4 linked regions of the Homo sapiens genome follow. The protein of the gene in region 4 interacts with the protein of the main gene of each other region in a pairwise test. Each region holds a gene or a part of one and is shown on either strand. Other genes may lie near its edges. The genes, in order: UBQLN1, MAIP1, APOL2 and APOC4.

Evidence for each region.
Region 1: the proteins of APOC4 (region 4) and UBQLN1 interact in binary tests that used the Homo sapiens proteins (3 or more experiments, as listed by UniProt).
Region 2: the proteins of APOC4 (region 4) and MAIP1 interact in binary tests that used the Homo sapiens proteins (3 or more experiments, as listed by UniProt).
Region 3: the proteins of APOC4 (region 4) and APOL2 interact in binary tests that used the Homo sapiens proteins (3 or more experiments, as listed by UniProt).

Annotation. Positions count from the first base shown.
Region 1 is NC_000009.12:83,662,940-83,669,962, forward strand, and holds part of UBQLN1 (ubiquilin-1), read right to left. Parts: intron 6,389-7,023; coding exon 6,246-6,388; intron 5,693-6,245; coding exon of another isoform or gene 5,591-5,692; exon of another isoform or gene 4,569-5,590; intron 3,495-4,568; coding exon 3,411-3,494; intron 2,207-3,410; coding exon 2,091-2,206; intron 1,105-2,090; coding exon 936-1,104; intron 1-935. UniProt on the Homo sapiens protein: Plays an important role in the regulation of different protein degradation mechanisms and pathways including ubiquitin-proteasome system (UPS), autophagy and endoplasmic reticulum-associated protein degradation (ERAD) pathway.
Region 2 is NC_000002.12:199,951,074-199,958,604, reverse strand, and holds the start of MAIP1 (m-AAA protease-interacting protein 1, mitochondrial isoform 1 precursor), read right to left. Parts: upstream 3,024-7,531; 5' UTR 2,807-3,023; coding exon 2,357-2,806; intron 1-2,356. Other genes in the region: TYW5 (tRNA wybutosine-synthesizing protein 5), read left to right, coding at 3,135-3,212. UniProt on the Homo sapiens protein: Promotes sorting of SMDT1/EMRE in mitochondria by ensuring its maturation.
Region 3 is NC_000022.11:36,236,513-36,244,009, reverse strand, and holds the start of APOL2 (apolipoprotein L2), read left to right. Parts: upstream 1-4,482; 5' UTR 4,483-4,569; exon of another isoform or gene 4,570-4,874; intron 4,875-7,161; exon of another isoform or gene 7,162-7,414; intron 7,415-7,497.
Region 4 is NC_000019.10:44,938,135-44,945,253, reverse strand, and holds the start of APOC4 (apolipoprotein C-IV precursor), read right to left. Parts: upstream 3,018-7,119; 5' UTR 2,977-3,017; coding exon 2,901-2,976; intron 506-2,900; coding exon 364-505; intron 115-363; coding exon 1-114. UniProt on the Homo sapiens protein: May participate in lipoprotein metabolism.

The sequences.
Region 1 (7,023 bases), on a different chromosome or scaffold from region 4:
GTGGTCTGCGCCTGTAATCCCAGCTACTCCAGAGGCTAAGGTGGGAGGATTGCTGCAGCCCAGGAGGTGCAGGTCGCAGTGAGCTGTGATTGCATCCAGCCTGGGCACTTTGTCAAAAGGGAAAGGGAAAGAAAAAAAAAAAAGGGAAAGGCAAAGAGGGGAAAGAGGAAAAAGGGGAAAGGGGGAAGGGGAAGAGGAAAGGGAAAAGGGAAAGGGGAAGAGGAAGGAGGAAAAGGAAAGGGGAAAGGAGAAAGGGAAAGAAAAAAGAAACCCAGAAAAGAAAACAGAAAGCACCTAACAGACCTTGAGACATTAAGAAGTTTGGGGACAACCTAATAAAACAGGTTTAAACTGGCGATCATCTTTATATAATGGCACATTATTAGTAAAACCAATGTATGTTTGTAGATGCAACCACATTATTAGGGGGTCCATATTCTTTAGCCATATTTACGAGATATATATATATGTAACACAAGCTACCGCAGGAGGTGGTGTCATGGGTGGAGTTAAGGTAGTTAGGACTTTTTTCCAGTCAAAAGACAGACTAGAATACAGCTGCCCTGGAGGTACTTGGGATAATCAAGTTTCCATTCCTCCCTAAGAACTTTTTTAAAGCAAAATCTATTTCAAATGATTTTCAAATAGGAACAAAAAAAATGCATTTTTAAAGGCAATTTCTAAAAAATAAGACTTTAGGTTGTAGCATGTCTTCTCTACAACCGTAACAACGTTTCCTTTAGTGTCTCAGCACCAAAGTCAACAATTTTTGTAATGCCTGTTTTCTTACTCAATATCCTTAAGACTGTATTTTTCATTAATCTAAACACCTAAGAACTACTGCTTTCCTTTTTTCTCCCTTTTTCCTTCTTTTTGGAAATTTCTAAATTTCCAACATTAAGGAATACAAAACTTGAATGGAAAAGAACTGATACCTGAGGATTTACTCCAGCAAGAGCCTGCAGCATCTGCTGAATAAACTGCTGATGTCCAGGTTCAGTGGTTCCTGCTGTGGGACTTGTGTTTTCACTAGGTGTGGCGTTAGATCCATTAGTTCCCGAAGAGCCTCCAGTGCTTCCTAATGCCCCCAAGCCAGGAGTAAACCTACAGAAAGCACAAATAGGAAATATCCTAAGGTCCTGCAAAACCAGAAGCCAGTCCGTAAATCAGTTACATTTTAATATAAGCTAAGCCATCTTCTTAAAATAAGCCCTTTTGGCCTGGTGCAGTGGCTCATTCTGGGAGACCGATGATCCCAGCAGCCCAGGAATTTGAGATCAGCTTAGGCAACATTGTTGAGACTTCATCTCTACAAAAAATAAAAACAAAATTAGCTGGGTGTGCTGGTGCACACCTGTAGTATCAGTTACTTGGCAGGCTGAGGTAAGAGGATTGCTTTAGCCCAGGAGGTAGAGGCTGAAGTGAGCTGAGATCGCGCCACTGCACTCCAGTCTGCTCGATGGAGTGAGACTATCTCTAAAAGGAATTTAAAAAATAATAATAATCATTTTTAACTTTGAAAACCCTGACTTAAAAACAATCATAGCCAGGCACTGTGTCCCAACTACTGGGGAGGCTGAGGTGGGAGGATCACCTGAGCTTAGAAGTTCAAGTTCAGCCAGGGTAAAAGAGCAAAAACCGATCTCTTAATAAATAAATAAGTAAATAAATAAATAAAAACGGTGGGGGAGAACCAGGTGCTATGGCTCATGTCTCTGATCCCACTTTGGGAGGCCAAATCTCTTGAGCCCAGAAGTTTGAGACCAGCCTGGATAACATGGCAAAGCTCCATCTCTAAAAACAGTAACAACAACAAATTATATATATAAATTAGCTAGGTGTGGTGGTGCACACCTGTAGTCCCAGCTACTTGGGAGGCTGAGGTGAGAGAATCCCTTGAGCCCGAGAGGTCGAGGCTGCAGTGAGCCACAACTGCGCCCCCACACTCATAGCCTAGGCGAAGGGCGAGACCCTGTATCCCACCAAAAAAAAAAAAAAAAAAAAAAAGGCAGGCAGAATAATACTAAATCTGAAATTCTCAGAGAAAGTAACCATTATACACTTTCATTATCTTCCCCAAATAAGCCTACCCTGGGATGAGGCCCGGGGCTTCCGTTGCTAATGTCTGTAAACCCTGCTGAATCTGTAACAAGGCCTGCATTGCTCTAGGGTTTGACATTGCTGATAGTGTATCAGGATTCTGCATCTAAGGAAGAAAGAAAACTAGTGGTTACAAAGGAATTAAAATCAGTGAACGTAAATTTTTAAATCTTTTCTCTGTTATGCTTCTGGAGAAAATCTAAAACCTTACTCCTGGACACTGGTAATCCATAATTTCTTTCCCAAAATAAACGCAAGTATCTCCTCTTTGACAGCAAACCTAGTGTGCAAATTATTACTTGACCTCCTCCTAAGTCCATCATGAAAGCCATTTCCATAATGGAAGAAAATCAGGAGCTACTTTGGAAGCCACAACTATTCCCCTTCTCCAACAGAAGATAAAGTATTACTTCTAAGACACAACCTCCAAAGGCACAATTCTTACGACGTGGATATGGTAAAAAGCCACATATTCCACCTAACCAAGTGTTATCTGTTACTAATATAACAATTTTACCAGTAAGGTACACTCTAAAACAACAGTTCCAAATTTGACGTTAATACATGTATCCTGAGTTTAGCTTTACTACTTCCAAATATACACCACCTGACTAACCAAAGATAGGCTTACATCATTACAATAGATCAAGGACACCAACCTTGGAAAATGGTTTACAGGTCTGAGAGTCATTTGCATAATACATGAGGCCCTAGAACTACCAGTTTCAAAACACCAAGACTGACTTCTCTTTTGTCGTTTTAAATAATAAAATACCATGGCAATCTCAAGTACTCGTTTATACTATAACCTTCCTTACTTCCTTATATGACAACACTGACTATTTTAATCTTACTAATCCCGAGTTTGAGGAAATGAGATCTACCCCTTGGGGAAAAAAAGCCTTCTACTAATTTGGAAGAAAACCTATAAAATAGAATAGGGTAGCTCTTTCCTGTTACTCAAAATTAGTTAAACCATAAAGCGTAACATGACACAAGGAAGCACTTCAAAGTTAGTACAATGAAAGGAAATGGTTTATGGTATTAACAAAGCATTCAAAATCCTAGGTCCTCAAAAGCAAAAACAAAATGTTCTTTCCTCAGAATGTATGTTTAAGAAACATAAGCAAAAGGTCAGCAGTGAAATGGGACTCAGTGAAGATCAAGCTGAATTCTCTACGAATTGACAGCATTATTGGTCTCTATTCTATGTTTTGCTATCAGCCAGAGAAGAGCAAGGAAAAATGTTTATCATCAAATTTTTTCAAGCAAATCATTACCCAAGATAGCTAACATCTTGTCTTACTCACTTGTTGGAGGAAAGTTGGGAGCTGTTGTCTCATTTGTTCTTGAAGCTGAGGATTTCCAGCAAATAGGGGATTATTCAGCATCATCTATGGGGCAAGTGTTCAAACAATTTTAACTGGAAATATCTGAAACAAGTAATGTACCTTGTTTTATTCTATCTTCCCCCAAGTGCCTCAGCTGGCACTTAAAAGGGAGGAAGGTAGAACATAAATAAAAAAAGGAAAAGGGAAGATACTGTCCACAAGAGGGATCTCCAGAAGAACAAAAACAAAAAAATGAGGCATATTCTCTCTCAATGAGAATGGTGGTTATGATAATGACATGCAATATCCTAAAAAATAAAAGCAATCATTTTCTTAGGCTTTTCCTTGAACAAACGTGAATATATGCCATTGAAAGAAAAATGGGAGTAACTGGCATTCATGAAGATATATTTTCTACTACACTGGCAGAATAAACATAAACATCAATACATGAACTATGTAACATGGCTTGCTTAGAAACCTCAACACACAAGTGGCAGGCACAGAGAAAATCTAGATCTGAAAAGGACCACTACATCTACCTGCCTACTACAAAACAGCTAATATTAGGTCCAAAAAAATAACACCGCAAAACAGCAACCAACTTGCCAGAGAAATGGAGCTGCTAGGTGAAAATCAGTCAGGCCTAGCACCAACAGTCCTCTGGGAAAAGTATTAAAATGATTTAAGACCTAAAAGATGTAAATCCATTTGAGAACACCAAGATTAGCATCTGGATTTCACCTCACTACTACCAGAGATGAGAAAAGTGGCATCTCCTAAACTTCAAATAAACGTTAAGAATTTAAAAATCAGGATCATTATTAGTATGATGTCATATACCTGAAAATAAGATTAAAATACACAAGGAGCATAACCAGAGCTAATAAATTCTTGTAGCTTCAAAAGACACATTTTATATCATTTTCCCCAGGCGGAGTAAAAAGTCAACTAACAAGGATTTACTGATAGCCTATTTATCTATCCAAAGTCTGGGGAGGAAATGATCCTTGCCCTCAAGAAGTTAACCGTATTTAAGAGCAATGTAAATGCTGGTAGAGAAAATTCGCCCCAATTCTTGCAAAGTGATCTTTTAGTTAATTTCAATACAATAACAAAAGCAGATGTCAGACAACCTTTCAGGAACATACAGTATTTATTTCAAAGTGACCAGTAAGTTCACAGTAAGTAAACTCATACAGGCTTAAGGTCAACAAACCTGCTTCTTTATTGGTTCCAAATACTTATCATCAACATATTAACGAGGTTATCACACATATCTTTTGGAATTCACTTCATTTCATCTTAAAAAAGCATGTCATCTTAAACGTATCCTTTCACAGATAATCATCTTATTAGATACTTCTTATAACTTACCTGAGTGCTTATACCACAAGTTTTTACACTCAAGAGTCTTTTTAAATATTTAAAAATCAAAAGAATAGAAAAACCACAAATTTTAATCTGCAGATAACAAGAACATTGTAAAAGTTTCTAAATTATCTGTAATAAAAGACATGCCAATCTAGTACTAGCAACATTTTGTTTTAGAGTAAAAAAATAGTATGTGAGTGCTCAAGTCACTTTACTAAAGTAAGATTATTACAAAATTGCTACGCATGTGCTTGTTAAAGTCAAATTTTAAAAGCAAGATGCACATTCAGTATTAGCCAAATACACACTTAAAATGGCTTATTATGGTAAATTGAAGCATTTAATACTAACAACTCAGTCTGATAAGTTTCATATGCATAAATCAATCTTCCATAAAATGTACCTCCAATATACAGAATCACAGACACAAAAATTCTTCTTAAAATTTGTTATTTCCAATTCCACAAATTTGGTGAGGGCATAAGTTATTACTGAGAATTATACACAAAGATACCTGAATCAATATAGTTTTAGAATTTAGAAAATAAAAACCATTCATTTGACTTAAAGCTTTTAAAATTTAAGGGATGAGATTAACTATAAAGTCTTCCAAATTCCTGACACACTACAGAAGCCATTTTTAACGAACAGCAAATATAAACTACAGATTATCAAGGTTTATTTCACATTCTCCGTGGTTTTTCAAGCCCTGTGGTATGGAACCTAGATAGTACCTAGGCAACTTGAGGGAGAAAGGGTTATCGGACGCAATTATCTCAAAATCTCTAAGGATGAGGCCCCAACCATCGGTACTGTCTATAAAGCTTCCCAAGTGATCCTGAGTGTTCAGCCAGCATTAAGATCCCCAATTTTCTTAGCTGTGGTCTCTTTAGAAACAAATTAGAAAAAGGAATACATTAATAAGGGACCTGTATACGATTTTCAGCAGGGGAATCAATAGTTGAAAGAAGGAGAACATTGTTCTGACAAATTCCCGTCTTTAATAAATGCTATTTTACAACTGCCATTCTGAGCATGACTATTATAATCTGAGTGATCTACTAAATAAAAGTATTTCAAATGTATTAACATTGCTCTTAATTGCTTTCAAGATTTACATTTCATTAAGTAGTTTATCTTCAAAAGAGTGGGCATTCCAGAACTCTGTACTTGTCTCCTAACTCAACATATGTAGAAACAAACTAAACCTGCACTTCTTTCTAGTCAATGAATGGCAGAGATAAAGTTGTTTTAATTACATATGAAGTATTAATTTACTGCAAAGAAACACACGGTCTAAAAAATTGGAGACACAGTTTACTTATTTTTCTAGTGTATTAAGATATCATACACAACACAAATGTGCCAAAATCACAATTACAAGATTAGGTTATTTTAATTCACACTGCACAGTCTTTTTCAATACAATTACAAACTCACCTGTGCAGCAAGGTCAGGATTCTGGCTTAGTGACTGCATCATGCTTCTCATGTAGGGGGCAGACAACATGTTTTGCATCAGTTGTGGGTTTTCAGTTATTTGTTGCAACAAGCTCTGCATTCCTGGTGTGTTGAACATACTAGCTGAAAGTTTGTTTTTAAAAAAGACATATTAAGGAAAAATACTTAAACAAAAGTTAAAGCTTTAAAATATAATATGCACTGTGTTTAATTTCACCAAGTACAAATGATTATACATATTATGTATCAACTGAACTACGAAAGAACTTTAAAACTAAAACATCTCTAAAAGTACATGCCCAACATATACCAGGAAAAGAGGACTGATGAGTTTAAACATTCTGCATTTACAGTAAAATCTTGTCTAATGAAGAGCTAGCTTCTGAAGTCAACTTAAGGCAAAAATTACGTATGGTCAAAATTACTGCTGAAAAATTCCATAAAGTGAAAAGGACTGAGCCAACTTTTCCTCCAAGACTGCAAAGAATTAATTAGAATCATATTCGGCACTTAATATTGCCCACCCTTATGAAAGAAGTAAGCCTTCATGCCCAAGGCAACAAAAGATGTAATGCCTCCACCCATTTTCACTGTGTACTGCCACTCACTGAGTAAAATGGTAGGCACATTTAACATTTGAAACCATAGAGCACAGTGACTCCAAGCAGTATCAGGAGCCTGATTACGTGGGTTCAAATCTAATCTAACCCATGTGATCTTGGGCAAGTTATCTAGCGTCTTCATACTTCAGGTTCCCC
Region 2 (7,531 bases), on a different chromosome or scaffold from region 4:
GAATTTTGACAGGGATAAGAACAGGATGACTTGGGAGCATACAGAAGAGCCTTCTAACCCAATCTGGGAGGATCAGAGAGGGCTTCCTAAAGGAAGAAACATCTAAGCTGAAATCTAGGCTGCCAGAGGATGCACAGGCATGTCAGATATGGCATGTCAGAGAATACTGCCTAACTGTTATAGGATGAATTGTGCTCTCCTTCCCCGAAAATTTATGCTGAAGCTCTAACCCCCAGAACCTTGAAATGTGACTATATTTGGAGATAAAGCCTTAAAGAGATGATTAAGTTAAATGAGACCATCAGGGTGGGCCAAAATCCAATCTGACTGGCATCCTTATAAGAGGAGCAAATGTGGAGTAAGAGCCACCAGGAGCACGCATGCACAGGGAGGACCATGCAAGGACACAGCAAGAAGACGGCCATCTGTAAGCTGAGAGAGGCCTCAGGAGAAAACAACCCCTCCGACACCTTGATACTGAAATTCAGGTTGTTTGCTTTATATAAGCAACAATGCTTACAGGCTGGCTGATGAATGGGGTGGAAATACTGCTTAATAGCAAGGAAGGAGGTGAAAATAGCTAACAGCTGGAGGACCACTAGGACTGGAGTGACCCCAAAAATGCTGCATGCTCCTCTGTGTGTTCAGAGGAAACAAGTACTGAGGCCTGATGCCTGCCCATGGTGGGGAGATGATTTCCATTCCTTACTGAAACATAAATGAACTGGTACCATCATATGTGTTATGAGGTGGACAAGCTCATATATCATCAGTGGGCATTGTACAGAACAGTAGGATCAATACAACTTACCACTGCATGGACAAAAGACTTTGAGAACTGACAAGAGCAGAGGTTTATCAATTATAATGCTGAGTTAAGCATCTTAATCAAGTTTGTTCTTTGACTTTTTTTATATAAATATATATAGTAGTCAAGAGTTGACTCAGAGAAGCAGGCAGCAGGAGTTAATACTGACACTTATTAAACAAAGTTGAAAACATTTGATTTACAACTGATTGGTCTTATAAATACAAATGGCCATGATTATGGAAAGAATCTGAAATAAATTTGGAGTAAAATATCAATACCAGTATACAACCAATACTGTAAAATGATTACACCAATAGCATGGTTTTAAGGCATATGGAGGTATGAAGCGGGAAATAAACTTTCTGACTTCTATTGTGGTTTTTTTGTTTGTTTTTGTTTTTTGAGACGGAGTCTCGCTCTGTCACCCAGGCTGGAGTGCAGTGGCGCAATCTTGGTTCACTGCAACCTCCACCTCCCGGGTTCATGCAATTCTCCTGCCTCAGCCTCCAGAGTAGGTGGGACTACAGGGGCTCGCCACGCCTAATTTTTGTATTTTTAGAAGAGACACTGTTTCACCATATTGGCCAGGCTGGTCTCGAACTCCTGACCTTGTGATCCACCTGCCTCGGCCTCCCAAAGTACTGGGATTACAGGCGTGAGCCGCCATGCCTGGCCGACTTCTATTGTTATCAGCAGTTCTGCAATGTTTGGGAACGATACAATCTGTAAAGGAGTCCAAAAAAAAAAAAAAAAAGCATGTACCCACAAAATCTACAAATAATCTCAGGACCCAAGTGACCATATGTCACAAGGGTAAGGCAAGGTATAATCAGCCATTCAGAAACAGGTACGTAACTAACAAAGTCAGGGATAAGAATCTCTAAAGGCTAAATATTTTCTGTGTGCAGGGTGCTGTGCACTTAGCCACCAGGCAGTCTCAGCAAATCCTTTGAAAGGGTAAAATTGCTCATCTCCAGTTTAATCTTTACGGAGTATGGGGTGGTGTATTGGTCGGCTCTGTCTAATAGCTGGCAGGAAGTTCTGCTCTTCTACCCAAGGTGACATTACAGCACTTTGGAAATGTTATCTCAATTATTCTTCAATCTTACCCATTTATTAATGTATTCAGCAAACATTCATGGAGTGCCTACTATGTGCCAGGCATTGTCTTGCCCACTTTGTAAATTTGAAAATTATGTTCAGACAAGATGAGCCATATAGCTTTTTCTTTCTGAGACAGGGCCTGGCTCTGTATCCCAGGCTGGAGTGCAATGGCACGATCACAGCTCACTACAACGTCCAACTCCTGGGTTCAAGCGATCCTCCCCTTCAGCCTCCCAAGTAGCTGAGACTACAGGCGTGTACCACCATTCCCGGCCCAGAAGCTTACTTTAAGTCAAGCAATGGCTGGAAGGCTCTATGTCTGGGCCACTAATCACGTTTGATCACTTGTATCCCAGTGAAGAAAACTCACTGCTAAGCACTTCTGCGAGCAATAGTTGAACTCATTAGAGACGGATAGGTCAATCAGGGAAATAAACAAACCTGCTTCGCTCCCTCGGAGAACTCTGTGATGCTGAACTCTTTGTCGAAATAGGCCCAGATAAGGAAGGCCTTAATTCGAGTCCTAACCCAGTTGATGGGGTTGGAGAATCCCAGGACGATCATCTTGGTTTTCTGGTGCTGCTGGGGCTTCTCCTCCGTGCTGTAGCTGCGCTGAGGGCAGGCAGGGAAAGAAGCGAAGGCTGCGGGGAGTCCCGGGCTGCTGAGCACTGGCCACCGGGAGCCCTGGGCAGGTAGCGCCGAGGCTGCCAAGGCCCTAGCGCTTCGTGGAAATAACGCCGCTCCCAAGCCGAGGCGACAGCGGCAGAAGTAGCAAAGTGTGGCCGACGGCAGCCTCACCTCGGCCACAGCAGGAGTCCGGAGTCGGACGGCCCCGCAGGGCAGCGACCGAGAGTGCAGGAACTGGGGTAGCAAACGAGCGGCCAGCGCCATTTTTATGACCCTTCACACCGGTGCCTGCCGGTGCTGTATGGAAAGGAAGTCGGTGGGAAACCGCCTCAGCGGTGTCGGAGAAAGAGACTGGAGAGCAAAGTGGACCTGTTGCTGCAGCCTCTGGTGAGTCGGCCCCGTCCCCGCTCTCCAGCACGCAGCCCAGGCCGAGGCCCTTCGGCAACCCGCCCCGCGCTCGGACCCAGCCACTCTGGAGTCTGCCGGCCTCGCGGACCTTTTCTCTGTCGCTCGTGTTTCCGGGCGGATGGCGCTGAGGAACGCTTTAGAGCCGAAGTTCCGAAGACCTGGAAGAGGGCAGGCGTGAGCAACCATGGCCGGGCAGCACCTCCCGGTACCCCGGCTGGAGGGCGTTTCTCGGGAGCAGTTCATGCAGCACCTCTACCCACAGGTGAGGCCCTCGCGCGGGGCAGAACCTCGAGAAACCAGCGAGAGACACGTCTTTACCTTTCGGACAGCTGGGAACTGGTTTTTAGAGACCCAGGGTGTGGGAAAGAGGCGCAGGACGGCAGCAGATCACTGGTTGGCCCTTAGACCAAGGGAAAGGTGCACGGGGGACGCCGACTGGCTCCTCTATTGAAATTTCCGGAGAAAGTCCCATGTTTCTGGGGAGCAAGATGATGGCGGAGAGCTGAGTGCGAGAGGTATTTTGCCTAAACTCTTTACTCCGCATCTGTCAGTCTGCTCCGAATTAATGGATTTGAAGGCACAACTTTTCACTCCACTGAGCCAAAAAGGAAAGCAATGGGATTCCCCCGGAAAACTCCTACTCGTCTTGAATTCTAACTTACTTAGGTTCTAGTTCCGACATTGGAGTCTTTTATACCTGTAGTTAGAACCTTAGGTCTTTAAAAGAAAACTCATAGAGAAATATTAGGGAAACAAAAAGTGCTTTTACTTGCAGTGCTTTTCAAGGGAGTCCAGACCTAAGAAAAACAAGGTATTAAAAGGAAAAATCCACAGGATTACAGTAAGTCAGTTTATGGTAGGAAAAATACCCAGCAATTTTCTTACCTGATATTTACATTTATAAGGGTGGTCATAGAATTACAGTTCTGGGGCCGGGCGCGGTGGCTCACGCCTGTAATCCCAGCACTTTGCGAGGCCGAGGCGGACGGATCACCGGAGGTCAGGAGTTCAAGACCAGCCAGTAGAAATCCCATCTCTACTAAAAATACAAAATTAGCCGGGCATGGTGGTGGCCCATACCTGTAATCCCAGCTACTCGGGAGGCTGAGGCAGGAGAATCGCTTGAACCCGGGAGGCGGAGGTTGCAGTGAGCCGAGATCGCGCCACTGCACTCCAGCCTGGGCAACAAGAGCTAAACTCGGTCTCAAACAAACAAACAAAACTACAATTCTGAGTGTTACAAAAGTCGGATGGGCTGGGCGCCGTGGTTCATGCCAGTAATCCTAACATTTTGGGAGGCCCAGGTCGGTGGATCACTTGAGGTCAGGAGTTCAAGACCAGCCTGGCCAATATGGTGAATCCCCGTCTGTACAAAAAATACAAAAATTAGCCGGGCGTGGTGGCGCACGCCTGTATTCCCAGCTACTCTGGAGGCTGAGGTCGGAGGATCTGCTTGAGCCCGGGAGGTCGAGGCTGCAGTGATCCATGATCCTGCCACTGCTCCAGCATGGGCGAGAGGGTGAGACCCTAGCTTAAAAAAAAAAAAGGCGGGGTTGGGGGGATGCGGGAGGAATGAAGTTTTTCTTTTGATAGCAACCTACGGGAGAGGATTCAAGCCTTTATTAGTTTGGAGACTTGTACTAGATGGGTTGTTCTTGCTCTCCCTGTCCTTAGACACCCCCTATCTCAGAATGTGCTAGACGTAAGTTGCCTAAAGGGCAGTGTTGTGAAGATTAGGGTATGTGGAAGTGCTTTGTAAGAGTCATAGCAAAAGGTATTTTGTAATTTAATCTCTTCAGACAAGACATACAGCACAAAGCATCATTACATTTTAAAAAGTCGAAAATTACAAACAACTTTCTCTGGCCATGGGCAGTAAAACTAGAAATTAATAACAAAATTGGAAAAAAAGACCTTTCTATCTGGAAACACTAAAAAGTATGAGGGGGCATAGTGCTATGAGTTTTTTGTTAAACATTTTCTAATAACTCCATAATTAACACTGTATATTGTACAGGTACATGAATAGATAGACCAAGGGAATAGAATAGAAAGTGCAGAAATACCTATTCCTATGGAAATTTAGTGTATAATAAGCATGACATTTCAAAAATCAATAAGGCACAAAATGACTTTTTAAAAAATAGACTGTTTTTTCGAGGCTTTATAGGTTCACAGCACAATTGACCAAAGGTACAGAGATTTCTCATGTCCTTTCTGCCCTGACACATGGATAGCCTCCTCCATGATCAACATCCCCTCATTAGAGTGGTATATTTGTTACAATTGATAAACCTACATTGGCACATCATTTTCTTTTTCTTTTTTTTTGAAATGGAGTTTTGCTCTTATCGCCCAGGCTGGAGTACAGTGGCACAGTCTCGGCTCACGTTAACCTCTGCCTTCAGGGTTCAAGCGATTCTCCTGCCTCAGCCTCCTGAGTAGCCAGGACTACAGGCACCCGCCCCGACGTCCGGCTAATTTTTGTATTTTTTAGTAGAGGCGGAGTTTCGCCATGTTGGCCAGGCTGGTCTCAAACTCCTGACCTCAGGTGATCCGCCCATCTCAGCTTCCCAAAGTGCTGGGATTACAGGCGTGAGCCACCGCGCCCAGCCTGGCACATCATTTTCACCCAAAATTCATAGTTTATATTAGGGTATACTATTGATATTGTACATTCTATGGGTTTGGGCAAATTTATAATGAAATGAATCCACCATTATGGTATTATACAGAGGAGTTTCACTTAGAAAATGATAAAATTCGGTTTATATCTCACACTGTACACAAGAATAAACTCCAAGTGGATCAGAAAAATGTAAAGAAATGAAACTACACAAGTTGTGAGTACACTCGGCAATACAAAACAAAATGAAGCTACACAAGTGCTAGTAGAAAATATGGGTAAATTCCCCTATAATCTAGGTCTATGGAAGGCATTTCTAGCTATGACTCAAAATTCAGGTGTAATATTAGATTAAAATTTGACTGCATGAAACATTTGTATGCCAGAAACACTGTAAGCAAATTTGAAAGACAAATACAAAGTGGGAGAAAATATTTGCAACATTTATCTCATATAAAGGACAGTAAAAGCCCTTGTATGGAAAGAACTTTCAAAAGGGGGTAAAAGGCTGAAAATCTGGTAGAAAAATGAGCAAACGATTGAGGGGGGAAAAAACATTAAAATGGCCTTTAAACTAGGAAGTTTAAGTTTACTCATAAGAGAAATAAAGCTACACTGAGATACAACTTCTTATATATCATATTGGCAAAAATTTAAAAAGCTCTGGTAATACTCTCTTGGTGATGCCCTGAAGAAACTGGCATACTCAAATTTTATACCAAATGGTACAACTCTGTTGGCATATCTAACTATGTTCACTTTATGACCCAGTAATTCCTCATTTAGGAATTTATTCTGGAGATATACCTCCAAAAATGTGTAAATATTTACGTAGTGTTACTGTACTTGCAAATTATTGGAAATAACCTAAATGCTTATGCAGGCGAGAATAATTGAATAAATTATGGCCCATTTACACTGAGGTATACTAAGATGTAAAAAAGAATAAAGGCGATATCTGAACTGATAAGTGGTGATTTCTAGGATATATTTATGATTTTTTTTTTTTTTTGAGACGGAGTCTTGCTCTGTCACCCAGGCTGGAGTGCAGTGGCACGATCTCAGCTCACTGCAAGCTCCGTCTCCCGGGTTCATGCCATTCTCCTGCCTCAGCCTCCTGAGTAGCTGGGACTACAGGTGCCCGCCACCACACCCGGCTAATTTTTTTGTATTTTTAGTAGAGATGGGGTTTCACTGTGTTAGCCAGGATGGTCTCGATCTCCTGACTTTGTGATCCGCCTGCCTCGGCCTCCCAAAGTGCTGGGATTACAAGCGTGAGCCACTGCACCCAGCCATATATTTATGAATTTTTTAAAAAGCACACAACAGAAGAAAATATATGGTAAGCTACTATTTATGTAAAAAACAAGGGGAAGAGATAATGAAATATATGTTTTTGATCACTTTGCAAAAAAGAAAGGAATAAGCCAAAAATTAATGAGATCAGTTATGCATAGGGGATGTGTGAGTATGAAATGGAAGAATGTGGATGGGGTGACTTTTGTATAGTTTTGATTTGGGGAATCACATGGATGTTTTACATTCTAAAGTCATAATAATAAAATCAACAAGGATGAAAAATTATTTTTTAAAAGACCCTAATATAGAATATAAAAAGTAACACATGAATCTGTTTAAGTGGGAGAGGGAGAAGTTACCCAAGTCACTTTTTTTAAACACAATACTTTAATTATATGTCCTCAATCTAAGACACAAAAAACTGAAAACAAACTGAATTCTAGTTAGTACAGTAAGTCCTCATTTAACGTTCTCAGTAGGTTCTTGGAAGCTGCAACTTTAAGGGAAATGACCTATAATGAAACCAGTTTTACCACAGGCTAATTGATACAAACAAGAGTTAAGTTCCAGTGGCATATTTCTGGTCACAAAAATATCACCAAACTTGTAAATAAAGACCCAAAACATTTCTAATCTTAAACATTGAAATAAACATG
Region 3 (7,497 bases), on a different chromosome or scaffold from region 4:
CTCAGACCCAGCTAACCCTGCCCTCCACCTGATGGTATTTCTCTACTTATCCTGGTAGCTGAACACAAAAGACATAAACTCGTGGGAGCTTTATGGCCCTGCCAATCACCTGAGAAACTAGAATACTTACCCTGGTCAACCTAGGGCAAGCTTGTATCTCCCTTCTACTACCGCAGCTGGTGCTCTCTTGAAAGTGCCACTTCCTGGCTGGAGACCAACCAACTCAGGCCATTACAGCAACTCATGACAGAATAACCCTATTCCCAGGAAGGAGAAGACAAGAGCTAATACCACTGCCCGCAACATCCTGACTGACCAGAGGTCCTCAGTCTCTCCACATGACAGCTTCACTGCTAGCATAACCAGCATTGGAGAAAACAGCACACTAAAGAGAACTACAACCAATGACTCTCACGGAGTCTACTTCACTCGCCTGTCACCTACACCAGAGTAGGTGCTGGTATCCATGGCTAGGAGACCAGAAGATGATCACATCACAGGACTCTTTGCAGACATTCCCCAGCACCAACCCAAAGGCTGGTATAGCCCCAGTGGGTGGCTATACCCAGAAGAGCAATAACAATCACTGCAGTCTGGCTCTCAGGAAGCCCTATTCCTAGGAGAAGGAGAGTACCACATCAAGGAATAACCCGTGGGACAAAAGAACCTGAACAGAAGGAGTTGAGTTTCAGATCTTTCCACTGAAATAGTCTACCCAAATGAGAAGGAACCGGAAAAGTAATTCTGGTAATATGACAAAACATATTTCTATAACACCCCCCAAAGCTATTGCTAGCTCCCCAGCAATAGATACAAGCCAACAAAAAATCTCTGAATTGCCATATAAAGAATTTAGAAGGTTGATTATTAAGCTATTCAAGGAGATAGCAGAGGAAGGTGAAAACCAACTTAAAGAAATTTTAAAAAATACAGAATATGGATGAAAATTCTCCAGAGAAATAGATATCACAAAGAAAAAACAATCACAGCTTCTGGAAATGAAAGACACACTGAAAGAAATACAAAAGGCACTGGAAAGTTTCAACAATAGACTAGAACAAGTAGAAGAAAGAACTTCAGAGCTTGAAGACACAGCTTTCAAATTAACCCAATCAGACAAAGACAAAGAAAAAAGAATTTTAAAAAATGAGCAAAGCCTCCAAGAAATTTGAGATTATGTTAAATGGCCAAATTTAAGAATAATTGGTGTTGCTGAGGATGAAGAGAAATCTAAAAGTTTGGAAAACTTATTTGAGGGAATAATTGAGGAAAACTTCCTTGGCCTTGCTAGAGATCTAGATATCCAGATACAAGAAGTTCAAAGAACATCTGGGAAATTCATCACAAAATGATCCTCACCTAGGCACATGTCATCAGGGTATCTAAAGTCAAGAAGAAGGAAATAATCTTAAGAGCTGTGAGACAAAAGCATAAGGTAACCTGTAAAGGAAAATCTATGAGATTAACAGCTAATTTATCAGCAGAAACCATACAAGCCAGAAGGGACTGGAGTCCTGTTGTTAGCCTCCTTAAACAAAATAATTGTTAGTCAAGAATTTTGTATCCAGCAAAACCAAGCTTCATAAATGAAGGAGAGATAAAGTCTTTTTCAGACAAACAAATGCTGAAAGAATTCGCCACTACCAAGCCAGTACTACAAGAAATGCTAAACGGAGTTCTAAGTCTTGAAACAAAACCTCGAAATACACCAAAATAGAACCTCCTTACAGCATATTGTTTTATAAGCCTTAGGGCCTATAAAACAATAACACAATGAAAAAAATAAGGTATTTAGGCAACAACTTGCCTGATGAATAGAACAGCACTTTATATCTCAATACTAACATTGAATGAAAATGGGCTAAATGGTTCACTTAAAAGGTACAAGGGCTGGGTGCAGTGGCTCACATCTGTAATCCCAGCACCTTGGGAGGCTAAGGCAGGCAGATCACGAGGTCAGGAGATCGAGACCATCCTGGCTAACACAGTGAAACCCCATCTCTACTAAAATACAAAAAAAAAAAAAAAAAAAAATTAGCCAGGTGTGGTGGTGGGCGCCTGTAGTCCCAGCTACTCGGGAGGCTGAGGCAGGAGAATAGCATGAACCCAGGAGGTGGAGCTTGCAGCGAGCCAAGATCGCACCACTGCACTCCAGCTTGGGTGACAGAGAGAGACTCCATCTCAAAAAAAAAAAAAAAAAAAAAAAAAAAAGGTACATAATGGCAGAATGGTACCGGTATAAAAATAGGCACATAGATCAAGGGAACAGAATAGAGAACCCAGAAATAAAGCCAAATACTTTCAGCTAACTAGTCTTTGACAAAGCAAAGAAAAACGTATAGTGCGGAAAGGACACCCTATTCAACAAATGGTGCCAGGATAATTGGCAAGCCACATGTAGAAGAATGAAACAGTATCCTCATACAAAAATCAACTCAAGATGGATCAAAGACTTAAATCTAAAACCTGAAACCATAAAAATTCTAGAAGATAACATCGGAAAAACTCCTCCAGACATTGGCTTAGGCAAAGAATTCAGGACCAAGAACCCAAAAATAAATGCAACGAAAACAAAAATAAAGAGATGGGACCTAATTAAAGTAAAAAGCTTCTGCACAGCAAAATAAATAATCAGCAGAGAAAACAGACAACCCTCAAAGTGGGAGAAAATATTTGCAAACTGTGCATTTGACAAAGGACTAATATCCAGTTTCTACAAGGAACTCAAACAAATCAGCAAGAAAAAAAAAATAATCCCATCAAAAAGTGGGCAAAGGACATGAATAGACAATTCTCAAAAGAAGATATACAAAATGAAATGGCCAAAAAAATATGAAAATGTGCTCAACGTCACTAATTATCAGAGAAATGCAAATTAAAACTGCAATAAGTTGCCACCTTACTCCTGCAAGAATGGCCATAATTTAAAAATCAAAGAAGAATAGAAGGGTGCAGTGGCTCACACCTGTAATCCCAGCACTTTGGGAGGCCAAAGCAGGTGGATCACTTGAGGTCAGGAGTTCAAGACCAGCCTAGCTAAAATGGTGTGAATATGGTGACAAGGGAAAACTTTTACACTGGTGGTGGGAATGTAAACTAGTACAACCACTATGGAAAACAGTATGGCAACTCCTTAAAAAACTAAAAGTAGAATACCATTTGATCCAGTAATCCCACTACCGGGTATCTACCCAGAGGAGAAAAGTTATTATATAAAAAAGATACTCGCACATGCATGTTTATAGCTGCATAATTTGCAACCGAAAAAATATGGAACCAACCTAAATGCTCATCAGCCAACAAGTGGATGAAGAAAATGTGTGTGTATATACACACACACACACACACACACACACCCCTATATATGTATATGCCATGGAATATTACTCAGCTGTAAAAAGGAAGGGAATAATGGCATCCGTAACAATCTGGATGAAGTTGGACACCATTATTCTGAGTGAAGTAACTCAGGAATGGAAAACCAAATATTGTATGTTCTCATTTATTAGTAGGAGCTAAGCTATGAAGACACAAAGTCACAAGAAGGATACAATGGGCTGGGCGCCGTGGCTCACACCTGTAATCCCAGCACTTTGGGAGGCCAAGGCAGGTGGATCACTTGAGGTCAGGAGTTCAAGACCAGCCTGGCCAAGATGGTGAAACCCCATCTCTACTAAAATTACAAAAAATTAGCTGGGTGTAGTGGCAGGCACCTGTAATCCCAGCTACTCGGAAGCTGAGATGGGAGGATGGCTTGATTGTGCCACTTGAAGTAGCTATGATTGTGCCACTGCTCTCCAGCCTGGGCTACAGAGCAAGACTCTATATCAAAAACATAACAGAAAACATAACCTCAGAAGCATTACAATAAATATGCAATAAGCATCCACCCAGCATGTGTGGGGGACTGTGCTGATGCTGATGGCATGTGTGGGAGTAAGGCAGGCATCTGAGGAATGTGGGGGAACGGAAGGACGGGGAGTAATCTGGAGAGCCCCACGGTCAGTCAGTGGCAGGTCTTTCTTGAGCTCAGAAAGGTTAGGTAACTAGTTCAGATCAGACAGTAAAACAGGGGCAGAGCCTGGAATTGCACTGAGGCTTGAGTCTGACTTCTCTCCCCCACCTGCTGTGCCCTTAAACTGCAGAGATCGGGGCGGGGGTTGGGGGGCAAGCGGCTCAGATGGGTTCAAAAAACTCCCCAGGCTCAACTCTGGTTCTGACTGCCTGAGACATGGGCAGCTGACACAGCAGACCTTGAATCCTGAGGATGTGAGGCAGGTGGGTTGGATGAGAGGGACCCGGATGTCTGGTCTGCGGCTGCTCCTCTAAGTGCAGCAGCAAGGAGGCTGGGCCTGGACTGCAGGTGGTGCTGGGGAGCAGCGTGTTTACTGTGCTTGGTCATGAGCTGCTGGGAAGTTGTGACTTTCACTTTCCCTTTCGAATTCCAGGGTATATCTGGGAGGCCGGAGGACGTGTCTGGTTATTACACAGATGCACAGCTGGACGTGGGATCCACACAGCTCAGAACAGTTGGATCTTGCTCAGTCTCTGTCAGAGGAAGATCCCTTGGTAAGTTGGGGATAGTGTGATCTACCCCCATGTCCTTATTCTTGCAATAGCTCTATAAGGGAAGGATCATTCAGCTTTTGTAGATAAGCTCAGAGAGGTTAGGTAGCTGGTTCAGATCAGACAGGAAAGCAGTGGCAGAGCCGGGATTTGCACCCAGGCTTGAGTCTGATTGCTCCCTCCCTCCTGCTGGGCGGGTAAACTGTAGAGAGAGGTGGGGAAAACAGCTTAGATGGGTTCACAAAGCTCCCCGGGCTCAGCTCTGGTTCTGACACCCTCAGACACGGCCAGCTGACCCCAGAAGAAAGGTAGGTGTTGGGGGTGCCCATCTCTTTGGGAAATTTGAAGGAATCAAAGAAGGTGGAGGAGGGGAGGTGACCTGGAGCCCGGCATGTCCTTGTGGCCGGGCCACACCCAGGCTGGCCCCAGGGTGCTGCTGCTGAAGCCCAATGGGAACAACAGATTTCTTTTGAGACACAAGGAACTCAGAGGTTGTCTCACTCACCCTGAGTCTGAGCACCTACTTGTGCCAGGCCCTGTGGGGAAACTGAGGCCCTGGGAGGGGAATGACTTGCCAGGGTCCCGTGTCAGGAGGCTGAGCAGGCAGATCATAGGACTTCACGTCTCTGGCCCTCACCTCTGTCCCTCTGTTCAGACCTCTGAGCTGATAGAGAAGAAACAGGCTGTGCTGTGTCCCTAATGGGAAACATGGCTGAGACAGGGGAGTGAGAAGGTCGCATTGCAGAATGGTACCTGTGGCATGATGCCAGCTTTGCAATCATGAGATTCAAAAGCCACACTGTGGAATTGTGAGTATAACTACAGGAGTGAGAGCTTAGGTCTCTGTGTTTGTAGAAGCAGAATCAAACCTGGACACTGTTGGATTATTAAAATCACCCATTTTTGCTTCAATATCAGAGTCACAAGGGCAGATGTTGGCCTCCCCTCTGCCCTCCAAGAGCTGTGTGACTCTGGGCAAGTCACCTCCCCTCCCAGCCTAAGATTTTTCCCCTCTAAAAAACTTGATAGAGCTGCCAAAAGTCCATGAAATCAGGGGGGTAATTTCTGTGAAATATGAGTCATGGTCTTATTTGTTCTTCACCAAAAAGAGATGCCCATCAAGATAGAAAGAAAAATTAAATTCAATTTCTCAACTGAAAGTGAAACTGAAGCTGGGCCATGTCATCCAGAGGCTGGTTGCTTTTAGTTCAAGTAATGCCTCCTGCACCTGGGATTTCAGCCAGGCTGTGCCAGGGAGGGCGGAGGGCATCCAGGTCAGTCGTAGGGGGTGCAGCTGGGAACACAACAGTGTCCCCATTGAATGTTCAGAGTCTAAAGGGGAGACAGAGGCCCAAAGAGCCACATACAGGTAGAGCTCCCTCTGGAAAGCAGAGTGCTCAGGGAGCCTGGGGAGGGTTGGGGGCCGCCGCATGGACCAGGCAGCTTTGGGTGGGTCTCTGAGGACAGGTGACTTGCACATGGTGGGGACAGTGGGGGGGACATTCCAGGGCGAGGGAGCAGCTGAGTGAAGGCCTGAGGCTGGGGATGGGAGTGGGAGGAGTAGATGGGCTCCAGGAGGCACCGAAGCAGGGCGTCAGTGGGTGCCTGGACCTAAGGTGACTGTGGTGGCAGGGAGCGGTGAGGAAGGTGGGGTCCAGAGCATCAGAGGGCCTGTGTGCCCTGCTATGGGGTTTGAACTTGACCGTGGCTTTTCACTGAAGATTCCTCAGAAGGGTGCAGTGCCACGGCTGAGGCCTGTAATTCAGTGCTGTGGGAGGCAGAGGCGGGAGAATCACATGATGCTAGGAGCTCAAGACAGCTTGGGCAACACAGGAGATGCTGTCTCTCTGAAATGAAAAATTAACAAATTAGTCCTGCATGGTGCCGTGTGCCTGTAGTCCCAGCTACCTGGAAGGCTGAGGCAGAAGGATCACTTGAGCCCAGGGGCTCTAGGCTACAGCAAGCTGTGATAGCCCCAAAGCACTCCAGACTGGGTGACAGAGCAAGACAGTTTCTCAAAAATAAAATGAAAATGACGATTTCTCAGGAAATCATTTCGACTCCTCTTTCCCTGCCCAAGGAGGATGCCCCACAACCACTTGGAGGGAGATGCTTTGCTGAGAGTCCCTGTCCTCTGCATCTGGAGAGCTTGGCTCAGAGCTGAGGTGGGAGGGAGGGCTCCTCTTCCAGGTCGCTCAGTTGGACACCGGAATTGACCAGCCTGCAGGCTCACCCATGGAGTACACACTGTGTCCTAGTCAAGCCTGAGGGGCAGTATCCAGCCTCAACCCCCAGCAGAGGCTCCAGACAAAGGTGGGAGCCAGGCCAACAATGACCCAGGAGGATGGGATCCTGGATGCAGCTCCTCACAAGTATTGGGCAGGTCCGAGGCCCCAGCTCTGTCTGCCCTCCTGCTCCTCTTCTCCCTCCTGGTCCTCCTGGTTCTCATGGCTCATGAGATGGCGTTGAGACAGCTCCCCTGGCCTAGGGTGTCACAGAGTGAACAAAGCAGGAAGAAGGGGAAGGGAAGACCCCCTCCCGTCACCCCGTCCCTTACAGCAAGAAGTGTCCAGATGCCCCTCTGCATACTCCCCTGGTGAACTGCTGCCCAGGACTGGGTCCCCCTTTTAGTCTTGCTGCGTAGGGGCCCCAGAAGACAGATATCTGGATGCCTCGACCCTGAAACAGAGGTGGGAAGTGGAAAGAGGGAGGCGAGTGGCTTTTGAGGAGGGGGCTTTTGTATAAGAGCTGGAGGATGCCCGGGAACCACTGAGCTGTTAAAATAAAGTCTGCAAACAAAGACCAGCTGCTGGAAGTGGGTGTGCCGGGGAGTGCGCAGAGACACAAGGTGAGAAAAGAACAATGGTGATTTTGGAGCCGCCCCTAACTGGGATGGGCCTGAATCGGTATTATCATTATTACTTATAGTGT
Region 4 (7,119 bases):
TTCTTCAAGAGGCTGTCTTTGGATTCGAGGAACCAGGCCTTGGTGAGCGGACCCAGGTCCCTCAGGTGGTCGTCATAGTAGGTCTGCATGAAGCCCCGGAAGGTGCTCGGGCTCCTACAGGAGAGAGGACATCACAGTGGAGGCCCCAGCTCTCCCCAGGTGTTCTCTGCCCCATTTATCCGCTCCTCTCTGTGACCTAGGAGTTCCTGCTCTCAGCTCTAACCCTCCACTCCTCCCAGACCTAGGGGTCACAGCCCCACTCCCACCCTTTCCTCCTCCCTGAGACTCAGGGGTCCAGGCCCCAGCCCCTCCTCCCTCAGACCCAGGAGTCCCCTCCCACCACCCAGCCCAGCACACCCTCACCAGAACCATTGCCACCCGTCTCTGGTCCTGTTCACCACTGTCTCCAGCAGCTCCTTCATCCTGCCCCTCACCAGGCTCCAGCGACTCATCTTTAGCTTTGGTGGGGGGCTCAGGGTTCCTTCCTGGGCCTCTGGCTGGCATGCTAGGTGGAACCAGAGGGCAACTTGGGTAGGCTGGGACCCTAGAATCCCCTTCTCCCTTTCCCTCCATGCTCATCCTGTGTCGCTCCCGGTGGCCCAGGGGCAGCCCCCTGCCAGTCCTCTTGCCTCCTGCCTTTACCCTTATGTGTCCCCTGACCGCTAACCCCTCTTTAACCATCAGCCATCTCTTTTTTTTTTTCTTTTTTCTTTTTTTTTATGAGACAGAGTCAGTCTCTTGCTCTGTTGCCCAGGGTGGAGTGCAGTGTCATGATCTCGTCTCATTGCAACCTCCACCTCCTGGATTCAGGCAATTTTCCTGCCTCAGCCTCCCGAGTAGCAGGGATTACAGGCATCTGCCATCATGCCCGGCTAATTTTTGTATTTTTAGAAGAGATGGGGTTTTGCCATGTTGGGGCCTCGAACTCCTGACCTCAAGTGATCCACCCACCTCGGGCTCCCAAAATGCTGGGATTACAGATGTGAGCCACCCCGTCCGGCTGGGCCATCTCTTCACCTTGTGTCAGTAGTCCCTCCTGTCACCCTGTCTGCCTGTGGTTCCCCTCTAATGGCCTCTCTAATTGCCATCCTCTGATGCCTCCCTTCACCACCTGATTTTGCTGCCCAGGAACTACCCCCTTCTCCCTTCGTTCTCCTGTGACCCCCACCCTGTCTGAGCTACCTCTGTGGACAGTGGAGGGAGAGCAGGAGGTGACTTTCTGCCCCCAGGGGCAGACATTGGCTTAGCCTTGCTGTCAGTTCCTCTTTCCGGGCCAGACCTTCTACCCACGCATCTGGACAAAGCCTCGCCTACAGAGACCAGCCGTCACGCGGGGGCCACATGTAGCTAGCTGTGTGCCTTGGCCGGTGACTTATCCTGTCTCCCCAGGACTGTTTCTCCTTTTGTAGAACGGGGTAATAATATCTACCTCAGGGTTATCGTGAGAATTAAGAGTTACTACATACGATGCACATGGAATGGTGCCTTGCACATTGTCTACATACGTGTTAAATTTTTTTTTTTTTTCAGACGGAGTCTCGCTCTGTCACCCAGGTTGGAATGCAGTGGCGCGATCTCGGCTCACTGCAACCTCTGCCTCCCGGGTTCAAGTGATTCTCCGGCCTCAGCCTCCCGAGTAGCTGGGACTACAGGCGCATGCCACCATGCATGGCTAATTTTTTGTATTTTTAGTAGAGATGGGTTTTTACCCATCTGTTAGCCAGGATGATCTCAAATCTCCTGACCTTGCGATCCACCCGCCTCGGCCTCCGAAAGTGCTGGGATTACAGGCATGAGCCACCGTGCCTGGCCCTGTATTAAAAATTTAAATTTCTACTGGATAATGCTGATCTAGAATATGATCCCATTTTAACATAAAGTACATGGCCGGGCGTGGTGGCTCATGCCTGTAATCCCAGCACTTTGGGAGGCCAAGGCGGGCGGATCACCTGAGGTCAGGATTTCAAGACCAGCCTGGGCAACATGGCAAAACCCTGTCTCTACCAAAAATATAAAAAAATTAGCCAGGCATTGGCCAGGCGCAGTGGCTCACGCCTATAATCCTAGCACTTTGGAAGGCCGAGGCAGGCGGATCACGAGGTCAGGATATGGAGACCATCCTGGCTAACACGGCGAAACCCCGTCTCTAGTAAAAATACAAAAAATTAGCCAGGCGTGGTGGTGGGCTCCTGTAGTCCCAGCTACTCGGGAGGCTGAGGCAGGAGAATGGCGTGAACCCGGGAGGCGGACGTTGCAGTGAGCCAAGATCACGCCACTGCACTCCAGCCTGGGTAACAGAGCGAGACTCCGTCTCAAAAAAAAAAAATTAGCCAGGCATGGTGGCGTGTGTCTGTAGTCCCAAATACTCTGAAGACTGAGGCAGGAGAATCCCTTGAAACGGGTAGGCGGATGATGCAGTGAGCCAAGATCGCACCACTGCTACCACTGCACTCCAGCCTGGGTGACAGAGTGAGACTCCGTCTCAAAAAAAAAAAAAAAAATGCATATGCAAAACACAGACGTACACACCAGCACACACTCACCCCCTCACACATGTCCACACACTCAAATATTTTGCACACACATACCCCACAGAGAGACAGGTGCACACAAATACACATATGCACACAGACATGCACTTTTTTACCACGACTGCATACTCCCACTTCCACGCACGCACGTGCACACACACAGATGATCCCAGTTTGTACCAATGTGACATTCACACTTCACTCTCAGCCACCGACACACACACTCCCCGACACGCACATGCATACGCACGCCATGAAACGCACACACTCCGTACTCATGTCTCACGTGGCTACAGAGCCACAGGACACACAGCCACACTCACACCCACCAGGTGTGGGCCCCACATCCCTCCACCCACTTCTTCTCACCCCCAATGCAGGCCAGGACCAGCACGCAGAGGCACAGGGCAGGCAGGGCCTGGAGCCTGTTTCTGAGGAGGGACATTTCTGGGGGTTCCGTGCCTCTGTCCCTCTGTGCTCAACTCTGCGGGCCGGGGGAGGGGAGGCTGCACAGAGCAGGGCCCTCCCCCGGCCACCTCCCCGCTTGGCAGAGACTTCAGAGAGCAGGGCCCAGGTGACAGTGGCAATCAGAGGTCATGCCTCTGTGGGCCTCCCTCCTTCTCACCCTCCCACACAGTGCCCTGAGAGAAGACAGAGGCTCTTGAGCCTCCTGCACTGAGGCAGGTTCAAATCCTGTCTCCACCTCCCATGACAGCCTCATTTGCTGGCCTCAGTTTCCTCCTCCATAAAGTGGGAGGCACAGTACATATTTCAGTATATTACTTGAACAAATACAAAGAAAGGCGCAGTGGCTCACGCCTGTAATCCCAGCACTTTGGGAGGCCGAGGTGGGCAGATCATATGAGGCCAGGAGTTTGAGACCAACCTGGCCAACATGGTGAAAAACCCTGTCCCTACTAAAAATACAAAAATTAGCCAGAAGTAGTGATGCGTGCCTGTAATCCCAGCTACTTGGGAGGCTGAGGCAGGAGAATGGCTTGAACCCGGGAAGTGAAGGCTGCAGTGAGCCGCGATCACACCACTGCACTCCAGCCTGGGTGACAGAGCAAGACTCTGTCTTGAAACAAAACAAAACAAAAAATGAAGAAAGCTCTTACCGTGGAGACTGGCAATATAGGTGCTCAAAGATCATTGCTGTTGGCCAGGCGCGGTGGCTCATGCCTGTAACCCCAACACTTTGGGAGGCCGAGGCAGGCGGATCACGAGGTCAGGAGATTGAGACCATCTTGGCTAACACGGTGAAACCCCATCTCTACTAAAAATATGAAAAATTAGCCAGGCGTGGTGGCAGGCGCCTGTAGTCCTAGCTACTCGGGAGGCTGAGGCAGGAGAATGGCGTGAACCTGGGAGGTGGAGCTTGCATTGAGCCGAGATCGCGCCACTGCAGTCCAGCCTGGGCGAAAGAGCAAGACTCCGTCTCAGAAAAAAAAAAAAGATCATTGCTGTTATTATTATCTTGTGTCTAATTTCTCCTAGTCACTGGGCTGCAGGGCCAGGCTTGTGGTAGGGCCTCAATAGGGCCCAAGGGTTGATGAGAGGAAATAGCAACACAGTCTCATGTCTCCAGCCTCTGTTTCTTCCTAGGTGGGCTCGAGCCCGATCACTTCCAAGCATTCCTTGAGTTCTCAATTCCAACTCTTTCTCCTCTGGGTGACTCTGGCTTCAGATGGACCTGGGCTTCGAATCCCTCACTTCTTCACCGTGTGACCTGGGCAAATACGTTTTCTTTTCTGGGGCTCAGTTTGTTCAACTGTAACACGGGGTTGATAGGGAGCACCTGCCTCCCAGTGTCCTCATGCAGGACGGCTGAGGCCTATGCAGGAGAGCTGCAGGTGCACATAGTAGGAGGTCATCAACATCAGGCCCAGGGCCAGGGCGGTGGCTCCCACCTGTAATCCCAGCACTTTGGGAGGCCGAGGCAGGCGGCTCACTTGAGGTCAGGAGTTCAAGACCAGCCTGGCCAACGTAGTGAAACCCCGTCTCTACTAAAAATACAAAAATTAGCCGGGTGTGGTGGAGCGAGACCTTGTCTCAAAAACAATAACAACAACAAAAACCAACAAAAAACCCACATCAGGCTCGGTCCCAGTGCCAGAAATAGAGCATTTTTCTCCTGAAGGACCCAGCTGCACCCCAGGGCACATGGCTCAGGGGACTATGGACTGGATTCTTTTTTTTTTTTTTGAGACAGAGTCTGGCTCTGTCGCCCAGGCTGGAGTGCTGTGGCGCGATCTCGGCTCACTGCAAGCTCCGCCTCCCAGGTTCACGCCATTCTCCTGCCTCAGCCTCCCGAGTAGCTGGGACTACAGGCACCCGCCACCACGCCCAGCTAATTTTTTGTATTTTTAGTAGAGACGGGGTTTCACCGTGTTAGCCAGGATGGTCTCGATCTCCTGACCTCGTGATCCGCCCGCCTCGGCCTCCCAAAGTGCTGGGATTACAGGCTTGAGCCACTGCGCCTGGCCTGGACTGGATTCTTTTGTCTACGCTTGCCAGACGAAATAGAGGAGGCCCAATTACATTTGAATTTCAAATCAACAGTGCATGACGTTTTAGTATAAATATGTCCCATGAAATATTTCAGAATTATACCAAAAAGTTTTTTTTGCTATTAATCTGAAATTCAAATGTAACTGAGCATCCTGTATTTTTACATGGCAAATCTGCAAACGCAACCTTGGCCACAACCTGAACAACTGTGCAGGACTGTCTTGACCCAGATGTCTGCCTTGGCAGAATCCTGTCCATCCCAGAGGCCCCAGCGTGAGCACAGTAGGTGCGCAACAGATGTCCCCTGGAATTCCTCTGTAGCAATCATCAGCAGATTGAAAACACCCAGAGTTTCTGTTTGGGATGACGAAGACATCCTGCAAATAGTGGGGATGGTTGCACAACAGTGTGAATGTACTTAATGCCACTGAACTGTACACCTAAAAATGGCTGCAATGGTTAAGTTTTTTTTTTTTTTTTTTTTTTTTTGAGGCAGAGTCTCACTCCGTCACCCAGGATAGAGTGCAATGGTGTGATCTTGGCTCACTGCAACCTCTGCCTCCCGGGTTCCAGCGATTCTCCTGCTTCAGCCTCCCGCGTAGCTGGGATTACAGGTGTGCGGCAACCACACCCGGCTAATTTTTTGTATGTATGTATGTATTTGAGACATAGTTTCGCTCTTGTTGCCCAGGCTGGAGTGCAATGGTGCGATCTTGACTCACTGCAACCTCCGCCTCCCGGGTTCAAGCGATTCTCCGGCCTCAGCCTCCTTAGTAGCTGGAATTATAAGCGCCTGCCACCATGCCCAGCTAATTTTTTGTATTTTTAGTAGAGACGGGGTTTCACAATGTTGGCCAGGTTGGTCTTGAACTCCTGACCTCAGGTGATCCACCTGCCTTGGCCTCTCAAAGTGCTGGGATTACAGGCGTGAGCCACCATGGCTGGCTCATTTTTTTGTATTTTTAAAGAGACAGGTTTTCACCATGTTGGCCAGGGTGGTCTCAAACTCCTGACCTCTCAGGTGATCCATCCACCTCAGCCTCCCAAAGTGCTGGGATTGCAGGCATGAGCCACTGCGCCTGGCTGCCCAGCTAATATTTTTATTTTTTGTAGAAACACAGTTTTGCCAAGTTGCCCAGACTGGTCTTGAACTCCTGGGTTCAAGTAATCCTCCCACCTCAACCTCCCAGAGTGTTGAGATTACAGGCGTGAGCCACCACACCCGGCCATGTTGTTTATATTTTACCACAATTATAAAAAAACAAAAACAGCCAGGTACTGTGGCAGGGGCTTGTAGCCCCAGCTACTCAGAAAGCTGTGGTAGAAGGATTCCTTGAGCCCAGGAGTTTGAGAGTCCAGCCTGGGCAACATAGTAAGACCCCGTCTCTTAAAAAAAAAAAAAAAAAGCTGGGCACGGTGGCTCACGCCTGTAATCCCATCACTTTGGGAGGCCAAGGCGGGCGGATCACGAGGTCAGGAGTTCGAGACCAGCCTGACCAACATGGTGAAACCCCCGTCTCTACTAAAAATACCAAAAAAAAAAAAAAAGTTAGCTGGGCATCGTGGTGGGCACCTGTAATCTCAGCTACTCAGGAGGCTGAGGCAGGAGAATTGCTTGAACCTGGAAGGTGGAGGTTGCAGTGAGCCGAGATCGCGCCACTGCACTCCAGCCTGGGCGACAGTGCGAGACTCAGTCTCAAAAAAAAAAAAAAAAACAGGCCGGGCGCGGTGGCTCACGCCTGTAATCCCAGCACTTTGGGAGGCCGAGGCGGGCGGATCACGAGGTCAGGAGATCGAGACCATCCCGGCTAAAACGGTGAAACCCCGTCTCTACTAAAAATACAAAAAAATTAGCCGGTCATAGTGGCGGGCGCCTGTAGTCCCAGCTACTTGGGAGGCTGAGGCAGGAGAATGGCGTGAACCCGGGAGGCGGAGCTTGCAGTGAGCCGAGATCCCGCCACTGCACTCCAGCCTGGGCGACAAAGCGAGACTCCGTCTCAAAAAAAAAAAAAAAAAACAACAAAAAACAAGGGCCAGCATGGTGGCTCGTGCCTGTAATCCCTGGTGGCAGGATCAC